Linked DNA regions of Homo sapiens: regions 2 and 3 are each linked to region 1. The links come from fine-mapping of genetic effects on gene expression. A gene starts in region 1. Each other region holds a variant in brackets. All regions are shown on one strand. Distances are from middle to middle.

Region 1 (4,243 bases):
GGCTTTTACAATCTCTCTTGTTTTATCAACTTCCCAGAAGAGGATCCAAGCATAGGCCATGGGATGGAGGGGTAGGGTCTCTGGTCTGGCTATGAAACCCAAACTGAACCAAACAGGCTTTTCTTATGGGCTGGGAGCCCAGGAGCATCTAGTTGACATTAGGAAAAAGGACCAGCCCTGTTTCTGGCAACACTTGGGTCAAAGTGAAATCTATGCTAAAAAGATGATGCTTAATGTAACATGAAAGATGCACACACTCCAACCTGCCTAGATGTTTCTAAGGCAGCAACTCTAAAGGTAATTCAAAGCCCACAGATAATGGAAAACCCACCAGGGACAGTTGGACTATTCCTCCCCCTATCCGTCTGCTCCTTGCTATGACCATTTTATTTATTTTAGCCCTATCTCAGATGTACACACACACATTAAATAGCCACTGCTGACCAGAGAGGGACAAAATTAACTTTACAACTATTTTTACAGAGATGGAGACTCAACTAAAGCAACCCAGTACCAACTGGGAGATGCAATAAATAAGTTTCCATTTGGCTACAGTGGCTCTCCCAGGACACACACAAGAGCCAGCTTCCATACTGTCCTTCTCAGGTGCTATGAGGGGACACACCACAGCTACACAGATTGAATTTGTGAATCCAAACAGGTCTTCATATCTGTAGACGCCCTGAAAATCGACCTGCTCTAACAGCCTCCAAACAATTCACACCTGCTCCTGGCTGCCCAATGTCCTGTGAGAACTCTCTCCCCAGGTGGACTAATTTAAGGGCACTCTCACCCAGACCTGGTTAAAAATCCACAGCAGTCACCAGGAGGTCTAGTCCCTCCCTGGAAGCCCAGCAAACCCATAAGCATCTAAATGGGGTATCAGAGGAGTGGAGATGATGTCATGGGTCTGAGAGCAGGAAAGGCTGCCCAGTGGGCTGTGAGGATGCCCAGGACCAGGGACATCAAGGAAGAGAGGAGATATCCCTTTAACGCATTCATAACTCCAAGGCACAGCTAAGAATGAAGTGAGCCTCAACTTAGCAAACCCACAGGCCACCAAAGACACCTCGACAGCCAAGCTGCTAGAAGCACTTGGCAAAATAGGGCAGCTATTGGACATGTGGATGGCACAAACACCAGGCAGGCAAGATTCTGCTGAAGAAAGTTCACTGGGCCCTGTCACCCACATTCTAGGCATCAGATGCCCAGAAATAAACGTCAAGGGGCCAAGGGCGGGCCCAGTCCAGGAGGGACAGCTGACAGCTGTGGGCGGCGGGCAGGGGCAGAGGAGGAAGGGCTCCCAGGCTGGAATTCGGATCATGCCCACATCAGCAGAAAAGTTCCTGGGAACAGCACGCTGTCTGGAAGGGAAAGAGGCTTGCTGCGGTCCAGGCCCCGGGATGCACACGCGGTGGTGATGCCAGGTTCAAAGGGCCGCCGGATGAAGCCCCGTGTCCTCTCCCAGGGCCCCTCGCCGGTCAGGGCGCCCATCGCGGGGCAAGTAGGGTGGTCAGACGTCTTAAATAAAGCTTCGGTTCCCAGGATCAGTGGGGAAAAATGAATTCCCAGATCCGGCCTTGCTTCAACTCACTTTACCCAAACCAAACAGTCCCAGAGAGGAATGAAAGGAAGCAGCTTTGCTACTCCCTCCGCGGTGCAGGTGGGGAAACTGAGGCACGGAGTGCACGCCAGAGACTCGGGAAGAGGCCCAGAGGAGGCTAACGCAGCCGCGCGCGACCAGGCGTCTGGGAAGATGAGACCAGGGAAGAGTTCTCTCCTCTCCTCTCCTTTCCTTTCCCCGCCTCCGTTCCTCAACACACACAACACACACACAGCCACACTCGAGCTACGCCCAATCGGGGCAGCCGCCGGGCTCCCCAGACCCGGACTGCACACAGAGCCCCGCCCGCGCACACAGCACAACACGACCCGGCGCGCACGCCCACACAATAGGACGGCTCGCACCCCGCGGCGGCCCCTCGGCAGGGTCCGGGCCAGCCCGGCGCCGGGGTCCGCCCTCCGCGCTCACCCACGCCCGGAGAGCGGCCCGCGCCCGGGAGAGGACGCGATCGCACCCGGCCGCTGCGCCCCGCGCCCCGCGCCCCGCGCCCCGCGGGAAGTTCGCCGGCCGCCCCCCGACTCACCCGCGGCGCTGCTCAGCAGCAGGCACAGCGGCCCCAGCAGCCACATGGCGCGGCCGCCGCTCCCGCTGCCCGGCGTCGTTGCTGCCCCCGCGGCCTCGGCGCTGACCCCGCCCCTCGCCGCGCCGTCCCCGCCCTCCCGCCTGGCCCTCCTCCCTCCCGCCTTCCCCGGGCCCGGCCCCGGCCCGGCTCCGCTAAGTTTTGCAAGCGCCTGGGCTGCGCGTGGCCACCCGCATGTTACCCTGGGTGTCCTGACTCCGAGGGGCCGCCGAGCGCGGCGGAGGGTTCAGCCTTTCGGTCTCTCAGCCTTTCAGCCTCCCAGGTCTGGCCGCGAGGATCTTCTAACAGCCTGGGCTCTGTTCTCTGCTTCCTTTTGTCCCTCTCATTTCTGCCTTTGCTTCCACACCCAGCGAGATGCAGCGCCCAGACCAAAACTTGAGTTCTTTACTCAAACTACAAAGTGAGTTTACTACCGAGAGAGAAAAAGTTAAAATAAAGGGTCAAATCTTATGAGAAAATTGTAGTATATTTTTAGTAGCGAGTGTGGAATACCAGTGCTTCTCAAACTTTAATATGCATCCGGCACACTTGACGATCTTGTTAAAATACTGACTCTGGTTCAGTAGATCTGGCGTGGAGCCTGAGATTCTGCATTTTTAACAACATGGTGGCTGATTCCAAGGCTGATGATCCGGGAGCCACCGGTAAGAGCAGCTGACACCTACCATGCACACAGCGTGGACCACATGAGTTATTTTGTCTGCATAGTGTCCACCTTGACCTGTTGAACGTTTGGGACCCAATTTGGAAAAAATAAAATTAAAAAAAGGAAAAGGTCATGAAAGGCAGATACCCAAATGCAAAAAATATAGCTGCACCAATGCACTTGCTTCCAGAGGGCACTGGTGAAAAGCCCCAAAAGACTTAGATGGTGGAAGAAGGGGATGACACTTCTGTGCTCCACTCTCTCTGATCCCCCACCCAAAAAAAGCAAAAGACTAACGCAAATAATTGCCAAAAACTGGAAACAACTCAAGTGTCCATCAATTGATAAATGGATCAATAAATTAAAACTTTTGGGGGCAGTGGGACTGTTCTAATCTTGATTATAGAGGTAGTTACACAACTGTATACATTTGTCAAAACAATAGAACTGCATCCCTAAAATCCACCCCTCAAAAGGGTTGAGTTTATTTACACAAACTCCACCTGGCTGAAAGAAAGGGGAAGGTATGGGTACAGGGGCAGTTATAAAAGGGATGCCTGCGTCAGATTTTGGGATGCCCTGGAGACACCCTCAAGGGTGTTAAGATTCAATTACTTTACTCTGTAATTGCGTGCTGTAGTCTGGAAACATAAAGGCTAAAAAGGATCAGGTCAAAATTTAAAAATACCAATGATTGTTCAAGGTAATGAGAAAATGTGATGTGAGGGAGGAAAGGTTAAGTTCCATAGTTCATAGTACACATGGAAAATATAAATCAATTATCTAAATGATTTGGCATTCGGGGCTTTTATCCTGGGATTGATGAATATTATGGAGATCGTCCCATGGGCTTCAAAGAATTTTAAAGCCCTTAAAATTTTATGCAAAATGTCCTGTGCATGTGGGTATGTGCATTGTTCCGGGAAGCTTGTTGGGAAGAGGCCTCCTGCCTTTGATAATAATATCTGAGGAGGCAAATAAGCAAATAATTTCTCCTACAGCTGCTCATTTGCCTCCAAACATTAGGGATACGGAAAGATAATGCAACTGACCCACTGCTATAGTTCTTATTTCCTTAGGTTTCTTTGGACACATCAACTTCCTTACTTTGCAAGTTTGACTCTGACTCTCTCTCTCGTTCTCTCTCTCTCACATACACACAGGCACACACACTTTTAAATATAAATATATTAATGTCTTTGAAATCATTTGGACTAATGTAAAACCTTATTTAAGGTCAACTGTTGTATTTATTTATTTATTTATCTATTTATTTATTTATGAAACAGAGTCTCACTCTGTTGCCCAGGCTGGGTGCAGTGGCACATTTTGGCTCACTGCAACCTCCGCCTCCCGAGTTCCAGGGATTCTCCTGCCTCAGCCTCCCAAGTAG
Region 2 (4,243 bases), 22 kb after region 1:
GTAATGGGACACAATAGAAGCTGCTCCTGGAATAGAAATGGGTAGTGAAGAAAACAATTATAGAGAATCATTGGGCAGCAAAGTAGATAACCAATAAGCCAATGACCTGATCAATGGGTATTAGATACATTAAATGCAAAAGATGATCCTGAAGTGTCCATTAGCAGAGATTCTACAAATATATTACCTAAAAATAATCAATACAGCCTGCTGACAATGTAACCTATAATAGTGGTTTCAGAAGCAATTTCAAAAACGTGCACTGCTCACACTTGATTGTCTTTTCTACTTTTACGCTGCAAACCATACCTTTCCCTATCTCCATCTTAAGTCCCTTCTTTAAGGCTTTTTCTATAATAGTTTGTTGTTTCATTCTTACCACGCAGTAAGAAGAAATGGAAAAAGGGAGTCATGTGGGTTTTCTGTCTCTCCAGGACACAATTTGATGAAACATGACCAATATTTGCTGATGGCTTTGAAGACAAAACTATGACATTACAGCCTTTGCTTTTAAAGGTAGAGGAAACTTGTGAGAAAGTTAGCATGGGGGTGTGTAATGGGAAGCACGAGTTGTAAAGATTGGATGCTTCCTGTTAAACTTGGACAGGAAATTTGTTTTGTCATGATTGTCCAGAATGTCAGCTTGGCTCCTCACTCGAAAAAGGGAAACAAAGAACAATTCTTGTGTCCTTGTGTGCCGCCAGACTAATCAGCATCGTTCCTTCCACTTTACAACAGTTTATGGAGTTTGATTTTGTATACCCCATAAGTGTTAACACATTACAAAGTTAGTTGACTGGGAGAGGACAGGATAATGATCTTACTATTATATATTATTTAACTGGCATTAATCTTTCATTTGCCTCTCTGGCAAGACCAAGATTTTTCTTTGCTCGTGGAAGTGATCAGGAGTGTGCTACATAGGTGCTATACTCACTTGTGAAAGACTGGCCCTGCCGCCAATGAGCTTGATGCCAGGATAGAGGCAGGAACCCAGAAGCCTCTTTATGCCTCTTCTATTTTCACCCTTCACAGTATGGCTGGAAAGGAAGCAGAGACCTAACATCTCCTGAAGACCTACTATGTACCAGGCACCACGCTAGGCACAGGAAGATAACATCTAATTTTCATTGATATTTGTTTCCACAAAGGCATTGTTAGTGATCAGAAAAGTGCGTTATTTTGAGCATAGAGAGGAGAAAAATCCTCTGCCCTTTCCAGTAGCAAAATCCTGGAATCCCAAGATTCTAGAAGAAAATGTCAGCAGGGCCCTTTGATATTTTTTGTTCATAAGGAAGGAAATTAATCTAGGGGTGGTGAGGTGGGTTGTTGTTTGCTCCTCTCTAACGCTAAGGTAATGGTAGTTCTACTGCTATGTCCCAGGATTAGGCCGCTTAAAATGAGGCTAGTAAAAGCCAGAAACATTATATTTTCACAGAAGCAAATAATATTAGGTTTCAAGAGCTAGAAGTTCTAGAAAAGGGAAACAGCCCTTTGGTTGCACATGTAAAAGTAAGTAACATATCCATCATTTTTAAGAAAAATTATGCAATAAATATTAATATAAAAGTTGATGTAAAATAGAATACTTTAAAAAGTAAAACCATGACTCATACAAACAGAAAGTGAACACATGTCAAATATTTTATTTCACTCATTAATTAATGAGGAAAACAGTAAGACGTTATAACAGGTTCAAAGGAAATCAAAGAGTGGATACACATATGGGCAATCAAGAGTGCCGACAGCTGAGTGTGGTGGCTCACACCTGTCATCCCAACACTTCAGGAGGCCCAGGGAGGAGGACTGCTTGAGCCCAAGAGTGTGAGAACAGCCTGGGCAACATAGTTAGATCCCATCTCTACCAAAAATTTAAAAATTAGTTGGGCTTGGTGGTTGGTGGCCGTAATGCCTAGATGAGGCTGAAGGGGGAGGATCTCTTGAGCCCAGGAGTTCAAAGTTGCAGTGAGCAACTGCAACTATGATCACACCACTGCACTCTGGCCTGGGCAACAGAGTGAAACCTTGTTTCAAACAAAACCAAAAAAACCACCAAAACAAACAAACAAACAAACAAAAACAAGAAAGCTGACAAATTTGTTGAAGAGATGCAAAAACTGGCTTGAGGGGAAATAGTAGGGACAATTTTCAAAATTAATTGCATGTTGTGGTAGCCAGAATTCTAAGAGTCCTACC[T/C]CTTAGTGTACATGCCTTGCATAACTTTTTTTTTTTTTTGAGACTGTAGAATTTCTTTTTTTTTTATCTTTTCTTTTCTTTTTTTTTTTTGAGACGGAGTCTCGCCCTGTTGCCTAGGTTGGAGTACACTGGTGTGATCTTGTATCACTGCAACCACCGCCTCCCGGGTTCAAGCAATCATCCTGTCTCAGCCTCACGAGTAGCTGGGACTACAGGTGTGCACCACCATGCCCAGCTAATTTTTGTATTTTTAATAGAGAAGGGGTTTCACCATGTTGGCCAGGCTGGTCTTGAACTCCTGACCTCAAGTGATCCACTCGCCTCGGCCTCCCAAAGTGCTGGGATTACAGGCGTGAGCCACCATGGCTGACCCCCTGCAGAATTTCTTCTTCTTGAGTATGGGCAGGACTGTGAGTATGATGGATTTCATTCTCATGATTAGGTTACATTGGTCAACAAAGGTGAAAGGAATTTGCAGGTGTAATTAAATGTTTGAGACAAATTAATCAAAAGGGAGATTATCCTGAGTAGGTATGATCTAAATCAAGCAAACCCTTAAATAAAGAGATTTAAAGTAGGAAAGATTCTGCTGACCTTTGAGAGGCAAATTGCCAAGTTGTGAAGGCCACGTGGTAGGGAACAGCAGGTGGCCTCTAGAAACTGAGAATAGCCCATGCTGACAGCCAGTAAAAAATCAGGGGGCCGGGCTCGGTGGCTCATGCCTGTAATCGCAGCACTTTGGGAGGCCAAGGTGGGTAGATCACGAAGTCAGGAGATCAAGACCATCCTGGCTAACACGGTGAAAACCCGTCAGTACTAAAAATACAAAAAATTGGCCGGGCATTGTAGCACGTGCCTGTGGTCCCAACTACACGGGAGGCTGAGGCAGGAAAATTGCTTGAACCCAGGAGGCAGAGATTGCAGTGTGCCGAGATTGTGCCACTGTACTCCAGCCTGAGCGACAGAGCGAGACTCCGTCTCAAAAAAAACAAAAACAACAACAACAACAAAAAAAATCAGGGACCTCAGTCTTAAACCACAAGATGAATTCTGTCAATGAAATGCACTTAGGAGAGAAACCCAAGCCCAGGACCACATCATGATTTCAACCTGCTGATATCCTGGGCAGAAGACCCAGTTAACCTGTGCCTGAACTCCTAACCCACAGAAAATACAAGATAATACATGTATGTTATATCAAGTTGCTTAGTTTATGGTAGTTTTTTAAAAACAGCAACAGAAAACTCATACACATGTCCATGGAAAATAATCACTTGTATTGCAATCAGTTAGCTGCAACTTACAAAGTTGTAAAATTGTTCAAGGCAGTGAAAGGTGCAGCAATCCCACAGAATCAAACACCCTGGAAGGTTGCCCAAGACAGCACATAGATTTTCACTGAAGGTACTCAGTAATGCATTTGGTCCATTTCAAAGTCCTTCCATACAGTGAAAAATGTTTCATTTATTTAAGTGCTTGTTTCACAGACAATATTGCTTTATTTTTATTTAAATAAACTTTTTTCCCTGAATGGATTTTAGACTACACTTTGTTTTTTAAATATGTGAGGGGTTGGTGGGGGTTGGTTAGCTTCCAGAAGTTGCAGAGTGGAGACCCAAGAAGGCTTTAGAAACAACCAGGAGGTCTGAGCCTCACCGCACACCAGTCATGGCTGAGAAAATGGACCTGGGCAAAATGGGACTGAGAGGTTTGTGTTTTATGTGCAGTGAATGCTAAGGCTGATTTTATCCATTCATCTATTTATTCACTCAACAAACAAATCCAGTACCTACATGGGGAAGAATTATTTAGTAAAAATAATGATAGCTAACACATACAAGCTCTTACCATGCATTAGTCATTTTCCTAAGCACTTTATTCATAGTAACCTATATAATGTTCACAATAACCCAATGAGGTATGTACTATTATTATCCCCGTGTTATAGATGATGAAACAAGCAGAAAAAGGTTAAGTGACTTTCCCAAAGTCCCACAGCTGGTGAGTGTGAGAGTTGGGATTCACACTCATATAGTCTGGGTCCTAG
Region 3 (4,243 bases), 27 kb after region 1:
CTCTCCCCTCAATTCTGTTCCCTTTTCAGGCTTATTCCTGTTTCCATCCTTCCCCTTTTATTGTGACTAGTTGGAAACATAATGTAGGGAATCATATGTGCCCGCTAAGCTGCCCCACAGGAGAAAACAGTTAAGGAAGAATTTTCTTTGATTGGCCCTGGAAGTCAGGGATACTATGCCAGACACCTGTTCCTTTTTGGCTGTCCAGAATCTAATCCCCCTTCTTTTGACAATTCCGCCATCCCTTCTTCTTTCTGCCAGGATGACTCACCCTGGCTCAGGACTAGGGCATGTGATTTAGGTTTAAGCCCATTGAGGTATTGCATTTCCTTGGACTCCAATGACTGGCTCATTGATAATTATGTGACTTAATTAGAGCCAATTAGAGACACAATGAGACTTTTGCAGGGAATTCTGGGAAGGAGACTCTCACTAGATCCTTGCTTGACTTGAGAGGTATGAGGTTGGAACGGCTGTAGCCATCTCCATCTATTGAGGGAACACGGGTTTGAGAACACAGTCAAGTCAGGACGAGAACAAGAGACGCTGGATCTTGAGGACAGTGCTTGAGCCCTCGAATCAATCAATGTCTAAAGTAAGTCCTGATTTCAGACATTCAGTACATGATTCAATAAAATTTCTTTGAGCACTATCTTAGGTTGGATTTTCTCTTTCTCACAACCAAAAAAGTTGTCCTTTTCCCACTAGGGAAAGTTGAGGGGAAGCTCCAAGAACAAGAGCAGCCAGGAGAGGGGCAGTTCACTGCCGTCAGCCAGGAAACTGATTCTCAACTGAGGCTATTGTCCCTTTACGTTTATCATGAAAAGGCAGAACTTGCAACATATGCTTTTAGAGCCATTAGCTTTTCCATTTCTGTCCATCAAAAACCTGACAGTTTTATGGGTGGTGGGGGGAATCTGTCCAGTTGTTTATTCACATGTTAGTCTCCCTTAGAGTGAACACAGACATGGGTTGATTCCTCAATAAAAGTCATCCATATCTGCTTTTGGTCACCATGCCTTTTAAATGCTTATGTTTGCACAATTACACCATCTTTTTAGCTAATGGAGGGTCGATGAAGACATTTGGCCAGAGGACCCTGAAACACCTGAATCCCACCTTTGGCTGGCTAGCCCCATTTCTCAGCAGTGCCTTCACAGGAGCGGTAAGTAGCACTTTATTTTTAGAGAGAGCTTTGGTGAAAAACCATAATGCAAACTTGAGCAAGAGTGGACCTCATGCTTCTTGCCTGTCATGGTTCAAGCCCAATTCTCAGGTATTACCTGTTCGACTTTCTAGTTTCATGTTCTCTGCCTCTGGCTGATGTGTATTGGCTCAGGTTTTTTGTGGTTTGGTTTTGATTCTTGGTTTTCAACTATATCAGAGAAAAAAGCGAAAGTATTTTGTCACCTTTGCCTAGAATATTTGCCGAATGGTGGCTGCCCAAGTCCTTTCAAATTGAGTGAAGAAATCTGAGCCTGCTTCCAGGTGGGAGGAGGACTGTGTTTCCAAGGAGAGAAAAAGTGAAGGAGTGGGGAGAAGGGAAGAGAATGAACTAGAGCTACCCTGCTATTCTGGCCACGAGGATAGAGAGAAAAAGAGAGGCTATGCCTATGTTACGTGTGCTGTATATAACCTTATTTCTGTTGTAAGTTCCACCTCTAGAAAATACGGGCCACTAATTATCGCAGAATCTAACCAATCATATCAATACTCTCAGAGCAGAACAAGGCAGGAATTAAAAGGATAAGCAACAGAATGTTTGAAAGCTGGTTCTTAATAGTCAACATTGTAGTATTAATAAGGATAATGCCAGCTGCAACAGCAAATCATCTCCAAAATTTCAGCAGCCTATCCCAATAAAAGTTTATTTCCTGTTTGTATGACAATCCAAAGTGGGTATTTCTTCGAGTAGGGCTGCTTTCCTCCACTCAATGATTTAAGAACCAATGTTTCTTCAATCTTAAGGCTCCACCTTACACTGGTGATTTTCAATTTTAACTCAATATTGTAATTACCTGAGGAGCTTTATGCTAATACATGAGCCCCATCCCCAAGATATTCTGATTTTATTGGTTTTAGTTGCAGCTTGGGCATCAACAAGTTTAAAACACCTCCAGGGGTGTCTAAAGTATAGCCAGTGTTACACAAGGGTGTTGCCCTAGGGCAGTGGTTCCCAACGTGTGGTGCCCAGATTGGTATATCCACAACATCTGGGAACTTGTAAGACTTGCAAATTATCAAGTCCCTGATCTACTGAAGAAAAACTCTGGGGATAGAGCCCCCAGCAATCTGTGTTTTAACAGCCTTCTAGTTGATTCTGAGGCATACTCAAGTTTTGTTTTGTTTTCGAGATAGGATCTTGCTCTGTCACCCAGGCTGGAGCGCAGTGGTGCAATCATGGCTCACTGCAGCCCCAACCTCAACCTCCCAGACTCAAGTGATCCTCTTGCCTCAGCCTCCTGAGTAGCTGGGACCACAGGTGCACATCACCATGCCTGGCTAATTTTTCTTTCTTTCTTTCTTTCTTTCTTTTTTTTTTTTTGGTAGACATGAGGGTCTCACTATGTTGCCCAGGCTAGTCTTAAATTCCTGGCCTCCCAGAGTGCTGA[G/C]ATTACAGGTGTGAGCTACCACATCTAGTTGCAAAGTTCTCTGCAACCAGGTGGAAGAGAAAAGAGGAAGCGTGAAGGAGCATATCTCTTTCTTAAATACCTTGGACTAGAAATGACCACATGGGGCCAGCTACATTCAGAGGACTATGAAATGTGACCCTGGCTGGGCAGCCTGTTTCTGCAATAATCATACACTCTTGAGTTGCCTGCACTGACTCTGAATTCCACACTAAATCAGGATTGAAAGAAAAGGAAAAACAATTCTAAATTCTAGGTATAACATAGATGGTCAGGGCTCTCAGGCCCTAGGAGTTCAAGATGAAACAAAAACCTATAAAAAGACATACAAATTACTTGTGTTGATACAGGATAGATGAGGTTCATTCAGACAGAGAAACTGACACATAAAAATTGCACAAATTTATAACCAATATGCCATGCCTTATAATGTTATTTTTTCATCAAAGTGATATAACCCCTGGAGTCCTCATTCTAACTCTCCTAGATTCACCACCTCCCCACTTCCTTCCCTGCAATAGCTCAACAGCAACTCTAAGGCAAAGATAGAAGATTGTACATCTGTAGGGACATGGCCATCTCAGAAGTCAGTCCATAAGAAATTTGCCTACTTGAGACCCCCTGCTGTGTGATGATAGAGGGTACAGAGACCTTAAAATTGAGCAGTTTGAGGCCGGGTGAGGTGGCTTATGCCTGTAATCCCAGCACTTTGGGAGGCTGAGGCGGGCAGATCACGAGGTCAAGAGATCAAGACCATCCTGGCCAACATAGTGAAACCCCGTCTCTACTGAAAATATAAAAATAAGCTGGGTGTGGTGGTGTGTGCCTGTAGTCTCAGCTACTCAGGAGGCTGAGGCAGGAGAATTTCTTGAACCTAGGAGGCGGAGGTTGCAGTGAGCCGAGCTTGTGCCACCGCACTCTAGCCTGGTGACAGAGCAAGACTCCATCTCAAAAAGAAAAAGAAAAAAAAATTGGGCAGTTTGATTCACATTCATGTCCTGGCTTTGCCATTTCTTTCCTGTCCTGTATGACTTAGGGTGAGATACTTACCCTCTCTGAGCCTCATTTTGCTCTTCTCTGAAAGAGATAAAAGTCCTGGCTTGTAGAATTATTGGGACAACTACATGCAATAAAATGGGTGAAATGCTTAAAAAATGTCTATGTTTCTAATTCCCCCTTTCTTTTCCTACACTCAGGGTAGGAATATATCCATAGAACACATGCAGATGGATAAGCCAGGTTCTGGTCTCCATTCCAGGAGAATGCCATTTGGTTGAATTTTGGCTACAGTGTACGGACATAAAGAATTTGGGTCATTCTTATACCCAACAGACCACATCCAGGAAATGTATTCAAGATGCTTTGATCTCATCTGAGGGGTGGCTAAGTACAACCCATTCTTAATAAAGCTATTTATAGTGAGAAGCAATTTGGGTCAGGCCTGCCTTTCCAGTCTGCCTCATTGGCAAAGTGGTAGGCCCCTGACTTCTGTCTCTTACGTGTTCCTTGTGGTTTCTGTCTGCTCTGACTTTGGTTGTGTGTTGCATTTAGATGAGATGCCAAGGAGATAATATCGTCCAGAGAGCTAAGGAACAGCCTGAATGCCTGGGGAC

Which allele goes with the higher level. Positions count from the first base shown, and alleles are read on the strand shown. Sizes are in standard deviations (SD) of each study's normalised expression.
For the expression in monocytes of the gene that starts at base 2,230 in region 1, allele C in region 2 goes with a lower level than allele T (large effect, 1.1 SD a copy in Quach 2016).
As copies of C replace G in region 3, the expression in prefrontal cortex of the gene that starts at base 2,230 in region 1 goes down (small effect, 0.33 SD a copy in CommonMind).

What was found. PIP is the estimated chance that this variant, and not a neighbour inherited with it, causes the effect.
Region 2: its variant is the best candidate, but not a certain one, in a credible set for the expression of LDLRAD3 in monocytes (Quach 2016, PIP 0.80).
Region 3: its variant is the best candidate, but not a certain one, in a credible set for the expression of LDLRAD3 in prefrontal cortex (CommonMind, PIP 0.62).

The regions. Positions count from the first base shown.
Region 1 is chr11:35,942,049-35,946,291 of GRCh38, reverse strand. It overlaps LDLRAD3 (low density lipoprotein receptor class A domain containing 3), which reads right to left and starts at 2,230. Exons shown (of 6, transcript NM_174902.4): 1 at 2,148-2,230. The coding sequence starts at 2,193. RefSeq lists a silencer at 1,880-2,319.
Region 2 is chr11:35,920,037-35,924,279 of GRCh38, reverse strand. No RefSeq gene overlaps it. Among named protein-coding and RNA genes, the nearest start is that of LDLRAD3, 22 kb to the left of the region's middle. The variant T/C (reference allele first, on the strand shown) is at 2,197.
Region 3 is chr11:35,914,933-35,919,175 of GRCh38, reverse strand. No RefSeq gene overlaps it. Among named protein-coding and RNA genes, the nearest start is that of LDLRAD3, 27 kb to the left of the region's middle. The variant G/C (reference allele first, on the strand shown) is at 2,613.